Regions from separate parts of the Homo sapiens genome. Here region 2 is linked to region 1. Evidence: fine-mapped expression QTL. Tissue or cell type: whole blood. Region 1 holds a variant in brackets; the other region holds the start of a gene. All regions are shown on one strand. Distances are between the middles of the regions.

What was found. PIP is the estimated chance that this variant, and not a neighbour inherited with it, causes the effect.
Region 2: SNHG16 starts here. The variant in region 1 is fine-mapped to the expression of SNHG16 in whole blood (INTERVAL, PIP above 0.99).

The regions. Positions count from the first base shown.
Region 1 is chr17:76,582,953-76,592,424 of GRCh38, forward strand. It overlaps ST6GALNAC2 (ST6 N-acetylgalactosaminide alpha-2,6-sialyltransferase 2), which reads right to left and starts at 2,908. Exons shown (of 9, transcript NM_006456.3): 1 at 2,732-2,908. The coding sequence starts at 2,856. RefSeq lists silencers at 2,665-3,004, 3,055-3,344 and enhancers at 3,213-3,894, 3,895-4,575. The variant C/A (reference allele first, on the strand shown) is at 4,223.
Region 2 is chr17:76,553,636-76,562,850 of GRCh38, forward strand. It overlaps SNHG16 (small nucleolar RNA host gene 16), which reads left to right and starts at 4,129. Exons shown (of 3, transcript NR_038111.1): 1 at 4,129-4,222; 2 at 7,653-7,763. It overlaps SNORD1C (small nucleolar RNA, C/D box 1C), which reads left to right and starts at 5,155; the gene lies at 5,155-5,234. It overlaps SNORD1B (small nucleolar RNA, C/D box 1B), which reads left to right and starts at 7,473; the gene lies at 7,473-7,558. SNORD1A (small nucleolar RNA, C/D box 1A) reads left to right here and starts at 7,998; the gene lies at 7,998-8,071. RefSeq lists enhancers at 3,160-3,259, 3,749-4,549, 3,950-4,209, 4,550-5,351.

The DNA.
Region 1 (9,472 bases):
ACATTTTGAAAAGAGGAAAGATCTTTTTTTTAAAAAAGCATTGTTGCATTATAATAGAAGTATAGTAAACTTCATACTTAAAGTCTATTAGATACCCTGAAACAATTTTAATTTGTGTTTTTTAAAAAATGTATTACTCGGGGCTGGGCGCGGTGGCTCACGCCTATAATCCCAGCACTTTGGGAGGCCCAGGTGGACGGATCACGAGGTCAGGAGATCGAGACCATCCTGGCTAACACGGTGAAAACCTGTCTGTACTAAAACATACAAAAAATCAGCTGGGCATGGTGGCGGGCACCTGTAGACCCAGCTACTCGGGAGGCTGAGGTAGGAGAATGGCATGAACCCGGGAGACAGAGCTTGCAGTGAGCCGAGATGGGGCCACTGCACTCCAGCCTGGGCGACAGAGGGAGACTCTGTCCCAAAAAAAAAAAGAAGATAATGTATTACTTGGGAGGCTGAGGTGGGAGAATCATTTTAGCTCAGGAGGTGGAGGTTACAGTGAGCCAAGATAGACCCACTGTACTGCAAGCCTGGGTGACAGAGTGAGACTGTCCCCAAAAGATTATTTTTATAAGAAAAGGAATTCATTTCTTACAGTTATGGAGGCTGGGAAGTCCAAGGTCGAGGAACCACATTTGGTGAAGGCCTTTTTTTTTTTTTTTTCTTTTCTGCTCCTTGTGGAGCAGGGCTACCCCATAGGCAGTGGTCCAGGGCAGCCAGAGGGCCTTGGTGTTGGTGGGGCAGGACGTCACATGCAGAGTGGGGCTGAGTTGCTAGATCAGGTCTCTTCCTTTTTGTAAAATTATTTTTAATTGGCACATACTTGCACATATGTATAGGGTACAGTGTGATATTTCTTTTTTTTTTTTTTGAGATGGAGTCTCGCTCTGTCACCAGGCTGGAGTGCAGTGGCGCGATCTTGGCTCACTGCAAGCTCCACCTCCCAGGTTCACGCCATTCTCCTGCCTCAGCCTCCCGAGTAGCTGGGACTACAGGTGCCCGCCACCACGCCCAGCTAATTTTTTGTATTTTTTAGTAGAGACGGGGTTTCACCGTGTTAGCCAGGTGAAAGCCAGGTCAGGAGGATCTCCTGACCTCGTGATCCGCCTGCCTCGGCCTCCCAAAATGCTGAGACTACAGGCGTGAGCCACCGCGCCCGGCCACAGTGTGATATTTCAATACGTGTATGTAATGTGTAATAATCAAACCAGCTAATTAGCATATCCATCACCTCGAACTTTTTTTTTTTTTTCTGGAGACAGGACCTTGCTGTATTGCCCAGGCTGGAGTGCAGTGGCGCGATCACAGCTCACTGCAGCCTCGACCTCCCAGACTCAAGGGATCTTCTTGGTCAGCTCCCGGAATAGATAGATGGAAGCACAGGCATGCACCACCATCCCCGGATAAGTTTTGTATTTTTGGTAGAGACGAGGTTTCGCCATGTTGCCCAGGCTTATATCAAACATGTATTATTTCTTTGCATTGAGATACTTTGTGTTTTAAACATCTTTACATAAAAGTGACAAGGATTCCTTTTCTTTTGAGACAGGGTCTCTCTCTGTCAACCAGGCTGGAATGCAGTAGTGCAATCACAGCTCACAGCCTCGAATTCCTGGCCTCAAGCTATCCTCCCACCTCCGCCTCCCAGAGTGCTGGGACTACAGGCGTTAAGTCACCGTGGCGGGGCAAGCACCCTTTGTTCTAAGAGTGCTGGACTCCTGATCACTGGCAAGCTGTTTCACATTGTTCTGCAACTTTTGGTGTATCCTTTGACAGCATCTGTGGAGACCAGATACTTATTTTGTTTTCATCCCGTTAGCCCCCCAGCAAGGTTGGTAGGGGGTGCGCAGATGGAAAAGCTCCAGGAAGGGAAAGGCTGGGGCTGGAGGCCTCTCCCTGAGGCTGCCGGGCCCTTCCCTCCTCCCAAACCCAGACTTCGCACGGCTTGGTCCGCCTTTCTTAAGCTAAGCGAAATCGTTTTGCGGCTTCTTCAGTCACCGGAACCACCACCTGCTAGAGGCCGGCTCCCAGGTTCTCCTCGTGGGACACCCAGGAAAGTGCCTAGGGAGGAGGAGGGAGTGGAGCGCAGGACGCGGCGCGGGGAGGAGAACGCGGATGGAGCCAGGAGTCACCCCTCTTTCCCTCGGGCGCCCGCCTCTTCGCGGATCGCGCCCGCACTGGGCTTATCCAGACACGGCGAGCGGAAGCCGGGGAGAAGGGAGCGGGCGCGGGGCGGACAGAGACCGCAGCGGGCGGGAAAGGCGACTGGCCGCGGCCCGACGGAGGGTCCCCGCGAAGTTGGAAACCGGAGACTTGGGCCCCTGCCCAAAAAGCAGAATCTGACGTTACCGAGGGAGAGTTCCCGACAAAAAAGGAAGTTTTTATCTGCTTCGGGGACCCAGCCAGATTTCGACAATAGAAAGTGTACTTATCAGGCCGGGGAGGACTTCACCAACAAGGGGCACCGGGGCGGGTCGCCAGTGCACAGGGGCGAGGTCTTCCTTGGACCCAGGCAAAGGCCGCGGGGTCCGGGCAGCGCGAGGTCAAGGCTGGGAGAGGGTTCTGGCGACAAAGGGCCGCGGCCGAGTCCTCGCTGAGAGCTGCCCCAGAGGGGTCCACGCGGAGGTTGGGCTGAGGGCTGCGGGCCGCCGGGGAGCCCTGGGCTGGGGACCCTCCCCGCGCCCTGGTCGCCCCTGCGCCCTCCCGCTCTGCGCTCGGCAGCCCCTACCTGGCTCCGGCCGCTGGCCCCGGGTACCGCTGCACCGCCGAGAAGTACAGGGCAAAGAGGAGCCCCGAGCAGGCAGCCGTGAGCAGGAGCAGCAGCCAGAAGAACGACCCGCGCGGGAGCCCCATACAGCCCCGGCCCGCGAGCGCCCCGTCCGCTGACGTCCCAGGCAGAAGGGAGAGAACCGGGTGGGCCGGGTGGCACTTGCGGAGGCGGCCGTCTTGCCCTGCCCCGCCCTGCCCGCCGGGTGCCTGCGGCGCCTGCCCGCCCGGCAGCTCCCTCTCGGCCCCGGCTGAGTGGCCAGAGGCTGCCGCACCCTCGGGAGCTGGGCGGCGGGTCCCCCGGGGCTGGAGTGTCGTCCCGGCGCCCAGAGCGCGCGCTCCTTTGGCCCTGCCCCCTGCCCGGGGGACTTCGGCAGCGGCCACTCCTGCCACTGCGCTCTCTCCAGAGCCCAGCCCCGGGAGGCCGCCAGTCTCGGGTTGGGCAGGGCGCTTTCCTCGCGCCGTCCGGGGCTAGCTAGGCGCGGGTAGACGCCGCCACCTGCTGCGCTGGCTGCGCTCTGCCCTCTGCGGGCCCGGCACTCGGCCTCTAGACTCTGTGGCGGGTGGGCGGCGGCCGGGAGGAGATGTGCCCGGCTCCCTCCAAAGGACCCTCAGATCTGTCAGTCTGCGGACGCCAGGACAGCTGGGAGGGGGCGGGCAGGGTGGAGGAGCAAAACCCGACAGCTCAGTCTCTGGGCTGGCGGTAGAGGGGGGAAAAGGGGGTGAGGTGGGGAGCTTGCCGTGATGGGTTTCGTGGGGGAGCTAAGGCTGTCAGCGCTTATTTGGTAACCATCCAGGGTGGCCAGTCCCCTCAATCGCATTGAGTTCCTTTCACAGAACGAGGCCAGTCAGAGAGACCACCTGAAATGTTCAGCACAACGGGTTCCCAAACTTATTGGCACCAGGGACTGGTTTCCTGGAAGACAATTTTTCCACGGAGGGGGGTGGGGGTGGGGGGGTTGGGGATGAAACTGTTCCACCTCAGATCATCAGGCATGAGTTAAGATGCTCTCATAAGGAGCCCGCAACCTAGATCCCTGGCATGCGCATTTCACAAAAGGGTTCGCACTCCTTTGAGACTCTAATGCCGAGGCTGATCTGAAGGAGGCGGAGCTCAGGCGGTAATGCTCCTTCCCCCTCCACTCACCTCCTGCTGCGATGCCCTGTTCCTAACAGGTCTCGGACCAGGCTTGGGATTGGGGACCCCTGGTCTAGCAGGCTCCAGCATCAGAAAGGGCTGGGAAGCTCAGCACCCGTGCTCTCTAAGTGGAACACTCCCTGGCAGTGAGTGATGGATGAGATGGGTGTGCTTCAGTGGCCACTGTTCGGCAAGCTGTGACATGCGGCAGGCTGTGACATGCCCCAGACTCCCAACTGTCAGCAGGCTGCAAGGATGAGAGGGACCTAGGCTACCGTGTCACGGGCCTTTGGCTCTAATCTGTTCTTCATGTAT[C/A]CGAGGAAGTCTGGGTGCAGCAACAGGTACCTGTCTGATTGCAAGGCTTCCCGAAAACCTCCCAGGGCCTGGGCCTGTGGTCAGGAATGGCCATTCAGTCCATCCAGTCTCAGTACTCCTACCAAGTCAGGGTCACTGGAGGTCACTCACATTGGGCCAGTTCTTTCCTTCACCCCAAGACTGCTCAGCAGAGCCAGACTCATCTTGCTACCCCGCAGATGGGCACTACTTGGAATTTATGGTGTCACGACTTTCATTTCAATCTTTATGGGTTTACTTGTCAAAATTCCTGTAGATGTTACTTATCCCCTGATCACTGGCTTCTCACATTTCCTCAGACCTTCTCTCTGTGCCCATAAATATCCCTCCTAGCCCTTGCTCTCAGTAAGTGCCTTACCCTCTACTTCATGGAGAAAAGGAGAATCATTCATTAGTAATTTATTCAACTTCCACTTACAAACCTACAAACTTGGCCCCCACACACAGCCCAGCCTCTCCCTGCCGGGACTCTAGTCTTTTTTTTTTTTTTTTTTTTTGAAACAGCCTGTTACCCAGGCTGGAGTGCAGAGGCGTGATCTCGGCTCACTGCAACTTCCACCTCCCAGGTTCAAGCGATTCTCCTGCCTCAGCCTCCCCAGTAGCTGGGATTACAGGAGTGCACCCCCATGCCCAGCTTTTTTTTTTTGTATTTTTAGTAGGGATGGGGGCTTTACCACGTTGGCCAGGCTGGTCTCAAACTCCTGACCTCAGGTGATCTGCCCACCTTGGCCTCCCAAACTGCTGGGATTACATGTGCGAGCCACTGCGCCAGGCCTCAGGACTCCAGTCTTAAGAGCTGGGGAGAGGGTGCTCTCCTCCTGTGTGGGAGTTAACCCCCTATCTGTGTTAATAATCCAGGTCCACCTCCAATGCCTTAAATGGCAGTACTCCCCTCACACCAAGATCTCCTATCCACCCACCTGGAGTTCTCCTTCCTCCCATCTTCAGCCTCACAGGACCTCCAGGGTCTCCATCCTTCCCTTTTCTCCCAGTGGGCCAACCCTCTCTCAGCAGCTTTCTTTCCTATCTAGGCAGGACTCCCTGGGTTATAATCTGAGCTACTCCTGCATCAGTAACCCAGATTCTCTTGTGTTCCTGGCTTTCTTCCCAGCAAAACTCTGACCTGGATTCACTCTTGCCTCTGCCTCTCCTGTGCTGCCTGTCCCTGGCCTGGCTGAGTGCTGCAGGGGTCAGGGGTCAGGTGTAGCTCATTCCAGAGTGTGAATTGGGAACACAAGTTTGGCCTCAGCTGGCTCTCAACATCAGCCATTTCCTTATCCTTGCTCAGCTCCAGCTTCTATCCTGCTCAACAATGATTCTAGAACTTACTTCTTTCCTCAAGCCTCCTCTTTTCCCAGCCATACCTGTGAGAAAATGCAGCCCATCAGGAGTGACCTTCAACTTCCCATGCCCCCAAGTTCAAAGTCATCTTTTGTTAAGAACTGTGCAGATTTTGCTCTCCTTACAAGCTAACCAATGAAACTGCCATAGTTCTGTGGATGCTGGTAGAAGACACAAGACTACTGGATCAGAGACAAAGGACTTTATTACTCATGGTGCAGCAAGCAACATAGGCATCATGTTTGTGTCACTTCTCTTTACTCCTCAAGCCCCATGAGAGTGATACAGAGAGGCCCAGGTGAGTGTTGCACACACAATGGGTTTGCAGCACAGCTGAGAATCCCTGAGATAAGGAAACCAGAATCTTTTATAATGGGCTGCAAGCAAACCTGCTCTTGTCCAAGAGGGAGACATTATCTTTATTACGTTGGATAGTGAGGAAATCTGCCCTCTGCTCCAGAGGGAGGCACTATCTTTATCTTCCAAGGCAGTCTGCTGTACCAACAATCTTTTTTTTTTTTTTTCTTTTTTAGACAGAGTCTCGCTCTGTCGCCAGGCTGGGGTGCAGTGGCACGATCTCGGCTCACTGCAAGCTCCACCTCCCGGGTTCACGCCATTCTCCTGCCTCAGCCTCCCAAGTAGCTGGGACTACAGGCGCCCGCCACCACATCTGGCTAATTTTTTGTATTTTTAGTAGAGATGGGGTTTCACCATGTTACCCAGGATGAACTCGATCTCCTGACCTCGTGATCCGCCCGCCTCGGCCTCCCAAAGTGCTGGGATTACAGGCGTGAGCCACTGCACCTGGCCTATACCAACGTTCTTGAAAAGAGCCTGGAACAAAAGGTCAGTTGGTCCCTCTGCTCACAGCATGATCCTGCCCATGCACCCTCACCTTATTGCTCCAGACTCTCCTCCTTCCAGGGAGAGCCAGCCTCTTCACTGTGACCTCCCATTCTTCAGCTCTTGCTTCAGCAGCCCTCCCTGCCCCCTCTGCAAGGTCCTTATCACAGCCTATGAACATGCCCCAAATAGCTCATCCTAAAAAGCAAAGCAAAGCAAAACAAACAAAAAACGCCATGGAGCTGGCCCCCTTCATAGCTACTCTCTTTTTCTTTCATCCAAGTTCTTGGTAGAGAGTCTATTCTGTCTCTGCTTCTTTTTGCATCTGACTTCCTTACCTACGATGCCATTGAAATTGTACCCACTGAAGTCACTAGCAACCATCATCCTTCCAAAGGGAGTCCACATTTTCCAGTTCTAATTCTGCTGCATCTGTCTCTCTGAATTTGACACTTAGCTCCCAGTAATTCCAGCCTGCAACTCTTTGTTCTCATGGTTTCAACAACCAGCTTTCTGTTTGTGACTCCTGAATTAGTCTCCATCTGAGGCCCAGATCTCTATCAGCTGCAAACCTGTTCAGCTGTGTATAAAGGCATCCCTGGAGACCTGCGTTACTTTTTTCTTTCTTTCTTACTGTTTTTTTTTCTTTCTTACTGTTTTTTTTTTTTTTTTTTTTTTGAGTCAGAGTCTCACTCTTGTTGTTCAGACTGTAGTACAGTGGTGAAATCATGGCTCCTGCAGTCTTTTTCTTTTTTTTTGAGACGGAGTCTCACTCTGTTGTCCAAGCTGGAGTGCAGTGGCATGATCTTGGCTCACTGCAACCTCCACCTCCTGAGTTCAAGCTGCCTTGATTCTCCTGCCTCAGCCTCCCAAGTAGCTAGGACCACAGGCGTGTGCTACCATGCCCAGCTAAGTTTTTGTATTTTTAGTAGAGATGGGATTTCACCATGTTAGCCAGGATGGTCTTGATCTCCTGACCTCATGATTTGCCCGCCTCAGCCTCCCAAAGTGCTGGGATTACAGGCGTGAGCCACCGTGCCCAGCTGGCTCCTGCAGTCTTAAACTCCTGGGCTCAAGCGATCCTCCTGCCTTAGCCTCCCAAGTAGCCAGGTCTATAGGCATGTGCCACTATACCCATCTAATTTATTTTTGTTTTAATTTTTGCAGAGACAGGGTCTTGCAGACACAGAGGGCCTACTTCTCATGGGTTTTTCAGGGCTAACTATGGGACTTGAGTATGTGTGGATTTGGTTTGGTTATACGGGCAGTCCTGGAACCAATCCCCCATGGATAATAAGGGATGACTGTATGTAAATACAATTATATAATATATAATTATAAAATTATACTTTTTATAATTACAGAATTTCCTTTACCAGAGTTGTTTTTTTTTTTTTTTGTCTCATGTGTATTTGAATCTTGTTTCAGCCTGAAGATTCCTTTAGTATTTCTTGTAATGTGTGTCTGCTAGCAATAAATCCTCTTACTTTCTGTTTACTTAGAAGTGTCTAGGCACCTGCCACCACACCTGGCTAATTTTTGTATTTTTAGTAGAGACAGGGTTTCACCACGTTGACCAGGCTGGAGTCCACTTTCACTAGAAAGTGGGGCTATAGAGTTCCTCATGCTGGCAGTTCATCTTTTGCAATTTTTTTTTTAAACAGTCTCACTGTATTGCCCAGGCTGGAGTGCAGTGGCGCAATCTCAGCTCACTGCAACCTCCACCTCCCGGGCTCAAACGATTCTCCTGCCTCAGCCTCCAGAGTAGCTGGGATTACAGGCACCTGCCACCACACCCGGCTAATTTTTGTATTTTTAGTAGAGATAGGGTTTCACCGTGTTGGCCAGGCTGGTCTCGAACTCCTGACTTCAAGTGATCCACTTGCCTCGGCCTCCCAAAGTGTTGGGATTACAGGCGTGAACCACCGCGCCCGGCCGCAATGGTTTTTAATTTAATGTTGACTTCCTCATTGATTTGTCATCTTAAAATTCTATTTTTTGAATCAGGAAAATTGATCTGGATGTTTGATAAATCTAAGGAATTGTTAAATTTTAAAATGTGTGGCTAGGTGCGGTGGCTCACACTGTAATCCAGCACTTTGGGAGGCTGAGGCAAGATGATATCTTGAGCCCAGGAGTTTGAGACCAGCCAGGGCAACCTAGTGAGACTCCATCTCTATTTTTAAAAAGAAAGAGGTCAGGTGCAGTGGTTCACACCTGTCATCCCAGCACTTTGGGAGGCCAAGGCGGGCAGATCACCTGAAGTCAGGAGTTTGAGACCAGCCTGGCCAATATGGCAAAACCCTGTCTCTACTAAAAATACAAAATTTAGTCTGGGGTGGGTGGCGGGCACCTGTAATCCCAGCTACTCAGGAGGCTGAGACGGGAGAATCGCTTGAACCCAGGAGGCAGAAGTTGCAGTGAGCCAAGATCACGCCACTGCACTCCAGCCTGTGAGACAGAATGAGACTCCGTCTCAAAAGAAAAGAAAGAAAGAAAATGTGTGATAGTAGCATTGTGGTTATTTTTTAAAAGTGTCCTTATTGTTAATAATACATACTGAATATTTACAAACGAATATGATACATGGAATTCTTTAAAAATAACCAAGTCTGGGCCGGAAGTGGAGAGTGGATGGGGACACAGATGAAACAAATTGGCTATGAGTGTGGCTCATTGTTGGGGCTGTATAATGGGGATATGAGGGTGCATTACAGTATTCTCTCTACTTTTGTATATATTCGAAATTTTCCCTAACAAAAACCTAAATTTTTCTTTTTAGCTGAAATATGCTTCATTAGATATTTCAAAACTATAAGGTTATCCTTAACTTCAATCAAAGTCTTTAAAAGTATATATACATGCTTTTCACATAAGATGAACTATGGATTACGGATTTGCAAAACCAAGAGATCAAAACTTCGAGTACTCTATGTTCTAAAACAACCACATGTAAGCATTTTGTAAAAACATATTTTTACTAAAATCAATTTATTTCTCAGTATCTGAAACTGGCATGAATGTCGA
Region 2 (9,215 bases), 29 kb before region 1:
TCTTGCTCTGTCATCCAGGCTGGAGGGCAGTGATGAAGTCATGGCTCACTGCACAGCCTCAATCTCACGGGCCCCAGCAATCCTCCCACCTCAGCCTCCCATCCAGCTGGGACCACAGGCATGTGCCACCACACCTGGCTGTTTCTCATTTTTTATTGGTAGAGACGGGGGTCTCCCTATGTTGCTCAGGCTGGTCTTGAACTCCTGGGCTCAAGTGATCCTCCTGCCTTGGCCAACCAAAGTGTTGGGATTATAGGCATGAGCCACTGCGACCAGCCCAAAGACTGTTTTCTATTACTGTGGGTTTCAGATACCATGTCTTAAACGCTGTCAGTGACCACCCCAATACAGCAGGCCAGCTGACTGGATTTTCCCTTTGTACTCAGAGCCTGGGTCCCTGAAAAGCGCTGGGGACTTTTGCTTTCCTGTTTGTAAAGAGTCACTAGACTGTGACTCTTTCCATGTCAATAAATAGAGGTCTGCACTAGCCTGGTATAAAGGCTGTATAATAATTCCACGGTAGGTAAAACTCAAATGTCCTAGCTCTCACCAGCAATGAGTGCAAATGAGATCACAGTAACATCCACATTTCAGTCTCAACAGCTCTGAGCCCTTGCCGGCTCATTCAGGAATTCTGATGCATTCTCTGAAGTCCCCCTAGTTATTTCTGGGTTGGCTGCACAGTGTACTTTACATGTGCTCGGCACAAGGCCTCTCATTGTATTTCGCTCCAGCCTCTTGGCCACTGCCCAGCTGCCCTGGCATCCCCATCTGCCATGAACCTGCTGTTGGGGAAGCGATGTCCAGTCAGGTGTGAAAGCAACTTGGTGGCCTGCGGCAGAGTGAAGAGCTGTAAAGAATGGCCCTCACTATACACTGGGTGGCATCCAGGCCCAATACAGCCCTGCTAGAGCCCAGAGCCTCCATCTTCCACACATCAGCTCTGCAGCCTCCCATCCTCACTCTTCCTGCCACGAAGTGGCTCAAATGGCAGAGCAGGTGCCCATTGTTCCCCCTTTCAACCTCATTTCTGATTTTGTCCCCAACCACCCCTACAAACACATGAAAATCTTCTTCCTTCTCCCTTCCTCCCCGAAAACAAAAGTCCTTATACATAAGGTCACCTTATTCATTAGCGGTAAAAGCATGGATTCTACAGGCTGGGAGCAAACCCTGACCCTGCCAGTTACTGGTTATGTGAATTTGGGCAAGTTACCGAATTTCCCAGTGCTTCTGTTTCCTTATCCGTAAAATGGGGACAGTGATAGTGTTACCGGAGAGGAGTCCTGATCCAGACCCCAAAAGAGGGTTCTTGGATCTTGAGCAAGAAGGAATTTGGGATGTCTATAGACTAAAGTGAAAGCAAGTTTATTAGAAAAGTAAAGGAATAAAAGAATGGCTACTTGGCCAGGCATGGTGGCTCAAGCCTATAATCCTAGCACTTTGGGAGGCTGAGGCAGGCAGATCACTTGAGGTCAGGAGTTCGAGACCAGCCTGGCCAACATGGTGAAACCCTGTTGCTACTAAAAATACAAAAATTAGCCGGGCGTGGTGGCGTGCGCCTGTAATCCAGCTACTCGGGAGGCTGAAGCAGGAGAATTGCTTGAACCCAGGAGGTGGAGGCTGCAGTGAGCCGAGACAGCAGCACCACTGCAGCCTGGGTGACAGAGCGAGACTCTGTCTCAAAAAAAAAAAAAAAAAAAAGGCTACTCCACAGAGCAGCCCTGAGGGCTGCTGGTTGCCCATTTTTATGGTTATTTCTTGATTATATCCTAAACAAGGGGTGGATTATTTACGCCTCCCATTTTTAGACCACATAGGGTAACTTCCTGATGTTGCCATGGCATTTGTAAACTGTCATGGCGCTGGTGGGAGTGTAGCAGTGAGGACGACCAGAGGTCACTCTCATCGCCATCTTGGTTTTGGTTTTGGTGGGCTTATTTACTGCAAACTGTTTTATCAGCAAGGTCTTTATGGCCTGTATCTTGTGCCGACCTCCTGTCTCATCCTGTGACTTAGAATGCCTTAACCGTCCGGGAATGCAGCCCAGTAGGTTTCAGCCTCGTTTCACCCAGCTCCTATTCAAGATGGAGTTTTCTGGTTCCAATGCCTCTGACAGTAGTACTTCATCGCATTGTGAGGATTAAACGAGTTCATACATGTACAGAAACCAGTATAGGGAATGGCACCTGGTAAGTGCTATGAAGTATTAGCTATCATTACTATCTTGTCTACAGTAGGTCACCAGCCCGCTAGCAGCTTTTGGGAAATTCCACACTTAGAATTCCCACTGTAAGTCTCAAATGAAAGGAACTATGTTTGCAGGGATAGAACACATTCTTCCTTTCAGTATTACACAAAATAACGTGTCTTCAAGGGTAAGGTAGAGAAACCTAATGGCCAGAATTACTGCTGAATGAATTAATGATTATTTGCTGAAGACTTACTGTGAGCATAGCAGGTAAATACCAAACCCTGCACTGTTAAGAAATTAAAAAGAAAAAAATAAAAATAAAAAGAGGCTGGGCGTGGTGGCTCACGCCTGTAATCCCAGCACTTTGGGAGGCTGAGACGGGTGGATCACCTGAGGTCAGGAGTTTGAGAACAGCCTAACATGGAGAAACCCCATCTCTACTAAAAATACAAAATTAGCTGGGCGTGGTGGCGCATGCCTGTAATCCCAGCTACTCAGGAGGCTGAGGCAGGAGAATCACTTGAGCTTGGGAGGCGGAGGTTGCCGTGAGCCGAGATCGTGCCATTGCATTCCAGCCTGGGCAACAAGAGCAAAAGTCCATCTCAAAAAAAAAAAAAAAAAAAAATAATAATAATAATAAAAAGAGACTTCTGCTCTTGAAGAGCTTACAATCAAATGAAAGGAGGTAAACATAAGCAAATGTGGTAATTTGAAGATAAGTATCTGCAACATATTACCATCTGCAGGACAATATAACCCACACCGAAGGCCACAGAGATCACTGTTAATGGGTGGATGAGAACAGGGAGACTGGAATGGAGAAAAGGCTCTCGGTCTTGCAAACTTAAACTAGCTTTCAAATAGGTGCAAATTCTGGCCCTGATTGTTGATGTCGTTTTTGCCTTATTTTTATTTCAAAAACGAAGCCAGACCGGGCGCAGTGGCTCACCTTTGTAATCCCAGCACTTTGGGAGGCCAAAACAGGAGGACTGCTTGAGGCCAGGAGTTTGAGACCAACCCGGGCAACATAGTGAGACCTCATCTCTGCAAAATAAAAATAATCAGCTGGGCGTGGTGGCGCTCGCCTGTCGTCCCGGCCACTCAGGAGGCTGAGGCGGGAGGATCACTTGAGCCCGGGAGGTCCAGGCTACAATAAGTTATGATTGCACCACTGCACTCCAGCCTGCGTGCCAGGGTGAAACCTTATCTCAAAAACAAACCAAAAAAACCCAGAAACAAAAAAAAATGAAGCCAAGGTGTTTGCCTGAAAAATAACACTCAGAAGAGCAGTGGGTGTTACATCATTCTCCGTTCTTTTCGTAATTCAGCTCGTGACACTTGCCTTTTTTTCTCTTCTCGGAATGCCCCGGGCCCCTGGGCAGCCGCGGAGGCCGAGCCCCGTCGCTCTCCAGCGCTCCTTGCCGCCCGCGCCTCGGCTTCACCGGCCTCGCCCCAAACTTAAAAACACCTGAGCAGGAGGTTGAACGATTCCCTCGGAATCTCTCCTCTTCACTAACCCAGCGAACCACCCCAAATGCCCCTATCCTCCCCCAAATAAAATCCGCAGAGCAATTAACAAAGATACTCGGCCAAGCCCCGGTTTCCTCATCTGTCCCTGCCCCCTCGAACTTTCTGTGCTTCCCCAGTCTCGACCAGGGACAAACTGTGTTGAAGCTCAATGACTTTCTGGCAGAAGTGAACCTCCAGCTTCGTTTTCTGACAGCCGTGGTTCTTCACAGGCCTGGTTTCCCACTCCGGACCCTCCACTGCCCCTGGTGGCGGCCACCATCTTACCCCCAGCTCCAGGGTCGCGCTGAGGACGCGGCCAGCCCCCAGCCGCCGTAGTTTTGAACTACATTTCCCACCAGCCCTTTCTCAACATCGCGAGAGTTCCGGAGAGATTGCCGAGAAGACTTGCGCGCAGGGGCGGTCTCGCGTTCTTTTCGAGGTCGGCCGCGTGGCTGGAAGACATGGCCACTCCAGTCGGTGTTGAGCACGGCGAGCAGTCTCAGGCCTTTAGTGATGATGGTAAGGCTGCCTGGGTGGGAAAACGGGGTCTTCCTTGACACGACACTAACATACTTGGCTTCCCTTCCTCAGAGACGAAGTGGTGACGATAATCTCGGTTTCTCCCTCATAGGGTGGTTAGGAGGGTTAAAAGTACTGGATGAGAAAATGCTTTCCAAACGTTGAGAAAATGTTACTATGTGAAGGGAGAGAGCTCAAGCCCGTCCTCGGCGTCATAGGGCCGGCTTCTGCGGGGGAGAGCGCCTAACAACCTGGGCAGCCCCGTGCGCCTCCGCCGCGCGTGTGCTGAGCGTCATGCCCAGGGGTCTTCGGTGCCCGCGCACGGGCAGACTCTGACGATGGTGGTTCTTAATTCAGCATCAGGAGTGTTAACGTGTGAAGACGTGATTCCGCTTGGAGTGTCTTGAGGACGGCCCCAATCGGTAGTTCATATTTAGCTTTACAGATAGGAGTCAATAGGATTGTAAACTTCTGGAAAGCCGTAGTTTTAACAACGAGCCTTTTTTCCTCCCCCAGAGGCCTTTCTTTGTTTGGCATCTGCAGAGACGGTGAAAAGCAGAGCTCCAGGTTGAAGGATCAGAGTAATAGATGGAGCCCTTAACATGAGTAAGAGTGGGTGCAGGCAGGGCCTGAGTGGTCACTAGAAATGAGAAAGCACAGTTGGTGCCATCACATACATTCACCTCCTGCTTTATTCTGAAGTTCAAGTATGAGAATACGTGTTGACATACAAGCCAGCTATGGTAAGAAATTACTCAAAATTCAGAATGCTAATTATTTTAATGATAAAAATGAGTAGCGTCTTTGCCCGTGTGATTTGGGGCCACTAGGTGTCATTGTAACCAGCGTGGATCCTCGTTAGGGCATGCAGGGATGAAAGAGACATGGCAAATGAATTTTGGATCGCTAGGATTTAGGAATCTTTGTTATTGGCTGAGCTGAGGATGATTTAAAGTTATCCCTGTCTGAAATGGTATCTTTTGTGAGGAGGTCTGACTTGCTGAGGCTCAGCTGTTTAATACAAATCTGGAGAATAAACCTTAAGGTGGTTTCTGTTAGAATGAAGCCTGTTATCCTTCTCTTTTAGATTAAAGGTGGTGGCTGTGGCCTTGAAAACAGTCATGTGAAAACTCATCACCTTAAGGTGTTAAGTGTAAGGATCTTCATGATGAAATTTCTGTAAATGGTGAGATTTTTAGTACTTTCATAGACTTGAATATGCTTATGGTCCTCTTTAAGTATTGGTTTGTTAGTTTTGGGGATGTGTTGGTCTTCCAGGGTTACGATTGCCCAGATAATGGAAGTAGTATGGAATTCCTTTTGATAGGGTCCTTGCCAAGCACTCTCATAAAGAGCATTTTTTGTTTGTTTGTTTTGAGACAGAGTTTTGCTCTTGTTGCCCAGGCTGGAGTGCGATGGTGCGATCTTGGCTCAGCGCAACCTCTGCCTCCTGGGTTCAAGCTAGTCTCCTGCCTCAGCCTCCCAAGTAGCTGGGATTACAGGCATGCACCACCACGCCTAGCTAATTTTGTGTTTTTAGTAGAGACGGGGTTTCTCCATGTTGGTCAGGCTGGTCTTGAACTCCCGACTTAAGGTGATCTGTGCTGGGATTACAGGCGTGAGCCACCTTGCCTGGCCATAAATAGTATTTCTAATATCAACCCCATATGAGGTAAATTTTTTTCCCCACTCTGCTGCTGAGTAAGTAAAAGTGAGGCGTAAAGAGTTCTTTTGCCCAAAGTTATACAAGCAGTTACTGAGTTAGACTGGCAGTTCTGAACTGGGGAGCGATGGTGTTCCTGGCATCTGGTGAATGCTACTATTAATAAATACCCTGGCTGGGCCTGGATATTTATCTCATGCCTGTAATCCCAGCACTTTGGGAGGCCGAAGCAGATGGATCACCTGAGGTCAGGAGTTCGAGTTCGAGACCAGCCTGGCCAACATGGTGAAACCTTGTCTCTACTAAAAATACAAAAATTAGCTGGGTGTGGTGGCGGGCACCTGTAATCCTAGCTACTTGGGAGACTAAGGCAGGAGAATCTCTTGAACCCAGGAGGCAGAGGTTTGCAGTGAGCTGAGATGGCACCATTGTACTCCAGTCTAGGCGACAAGAGCGAAACTCTGTAAATAAATAAATAAATAAATATCCTACAATGCATACAACAGCCTGCATGAGGAATAATTGATCCACCCAGTATGTCAGTAGAGCTGAGGTTGAGAAACTCCTGTATACCACACGTTAGGCTAACTAGAGATCTGAGCTCTAGTCTCAGCCTATTTTCTCACCAGAGTCTTGTTTCTTCATTTGTGAAACAGGGTTAGTGATTTCCAAACTTGATTATTACATCAGAGCCACCTACAAAGTGTTAAAATATACACATTCCTGGGCCTCACCTCCAGGCATGGGTGAGAATGGCTCTGGAGTGGAGTCCAGGAATCATGTGGCCAGTCCAAGAGCAAGTGGGTAGTAACTAGATCAGGGGTGTCAATCTTTTGGCTTCCCTGTGCCACATTGGAAGAATTGTCTTGGGTCACACATAAAATAAACTAACACTAATGATAGCTGATGAGCTAAAAAAAAAAAATCTCATAATATTTTGAGAAAGTTTACAAATTTGTTGGGCTGCATTCAAAGCCGTCCTAAAGTTTACAAATTTGTGTTGGGCTGCATTCAAAGCCGTCCTGAGCCACATGCAGGCTGTGGGTTAGACAAGCTTGAAGTAGATGATCTGATCTGTTTTTAGTGCAAGGATTTTATTATAGTGAGATTATAGTGCTGGCTATTTTTAAGTAGCTCTTGGGCAAATCTCTAATCCTCTGTCTTAAAAAACTGAAAGCCTGGAGGGCACGGTGGCTGACACCTGTAATCCCAGCACTTGGGGAGGCCGAGGCAGGTGGATCATCTGAGGTCGGGAGTTCGAGACCAGCCTGACCAACATGGAGAAACTCCGTCTCTACTAAAAATACAAAATTAGCCTGGCGTGGTGGCGCATGCTTGTAATCCCAACTTACTTGGGAGTCTGAGGCAGGAGAATCACTTGAACCCGGGAGGTGGAGGTTGCAGTGAGCCGAGATCGCGTCATTGCACTCCAGCCTGGGCAACAAGAGTGAAACTACTTTTCAAAAAAAGAAAGTCACATGCTTGCTCCACAAAGAATTTGCGTGAGGGAAGTGAACAATTTGATGAGAAAAAAATAGTTTGCGTGTGCTGTGGCTGTTAGTGCTATGGTCCAGCAGGTTGGTGGGAGCTGAGTCCATGATGATTTCAAGTTATCCCTGTCTGAAGGCAAAGAAAGGCCTTTCTGTGTGGAATTTGAATATCTGAAACTCAGTTTCCCAAGTTTGCCTTACAGAAATTTTAAGTTACTTGAGAGTTACTCTGTGTGTATCTTCTTAAGTAGTTTTTTTTCTTAATTTCTCTTCCCAGGTGCAGTCAGCCTCAGTTTCCAAAGCCGGAAAAGGATCCTCTAGTAGCCACGGTGTGGCAGCTGCTCTGAACCAGGACCTGGACCCGGACCCAAAGTGCCATGTCTTTAATGTGAGTAAGTAGACGAACTGGTAAACAGGCTTGGTTTGGTTTGGGGGAGTGGTAATCTTTTTTGCTTCCCCTGCTCTGGACTTAAAGCAATGGGGGCAGGGAGACTTTAGTAGCATTTTGTTGCTAGGTGTCTGCAATAAGAGACGAAACTGAACTGCTTTGCCGGAAACAAGTGAAATGATTGCTTTCCTGTTTGTAAGATTTGTTTACATCTTTCGTATCCGTAAGAAGTCCCACAAGCCTATGATGGTTAGTTATCCCTGTCTGAAAATCTGGACTGAGGGAAATAATCTATTCTGAGGCTTAAGGGTTTGGCTCCATGGTTTTTTTTTTGTTTTTGTTTTTTTTCCCCTTTTTTTTTCCCTCAGCATATCCTGCTGAGAGCCCAGTCTAGAGCATCATTCCTCTAAAACGTGAAAAGCAAATGAGTGATTGTCCTGCTTTCTCTAGTCCTTTGATTATGGCTCTGAGGATACAGGCTGTATGAGGTGGCAGGAATGCACAAGTACCCAGGATTTGATTTATGCCCTTATTGTGGAATGAAAGTGCTTGTTACATATTTCAAGAAAATGAATGCGCTCTTAGAAACAGATTGGAATGTAGGATGTATGCCAGCTTGTGGCAATGAGAATGCTTAATGACTCTGACCTTGCCTCTGCTCCAGGGTCCTGACATTTAGGGGAAACCACGGCTGTTTGGTTTCTATGTGCTTTGTTAAGGACGCCAGGGAGGTCTCCTAAGTTTGTAGCTTAGATCCTGTCTGAATGTCACGACTGGCATGTGAGCAAGAAAGAAACCAAGTGGTGCTGGAGAGTGGGGTGCCCAGCTTTGTTCCCACTGGAATGCCAGGCTTGAAGTGCACACAGATTGCCTTTCTTTTCTGTTGAAAGGGGAGGTGTGGGCCGGGCGCGGTGGCTCACGCCTGTAATCCCAGCACTTTGGGAGGCCGAGGCGGGTGGATCATGAGGTCAGGAGATCGAGACCATCCTGGCTAACAAGGTGAAACCCCGTCTCTACTAAAAATACAAAAAAATTAGCCGGGCGCGGTGGCGGGCGCCTGTAGTCCCAGCTACTCGGGAGGCTGAGGCAGGAGAATGGCGTGAACCCGGGAAGCGGAGCTTGCAGTGAGCCGAGATTGCGCCACTGCAGTCCGCAGTCCTGCCTGGGTGACAGAGCGAGACTCCGTCTCAAAAAAAAAAAAAAAAAAAAGAAAGGGGAGGTGTGTGCAAACTCTTTGTATTTAAGGTTGTGTTTTTGCTGGACACCAAAGAAGCTGTATTCTGGGTGAGATTTAATGAGCCTAAAAACTGGCCCCAGTAGTTTACAGCCTGCAAGTAAAACAGTGAAAAGGGTAGCTTATCAAGTGGTTATTGTCTGCTGAGTGGACTTGACTACAGAACTCAAGTAAACCATAAGATTTGACTTGAAATGTTTCTATCCAGAGGGAGTGCT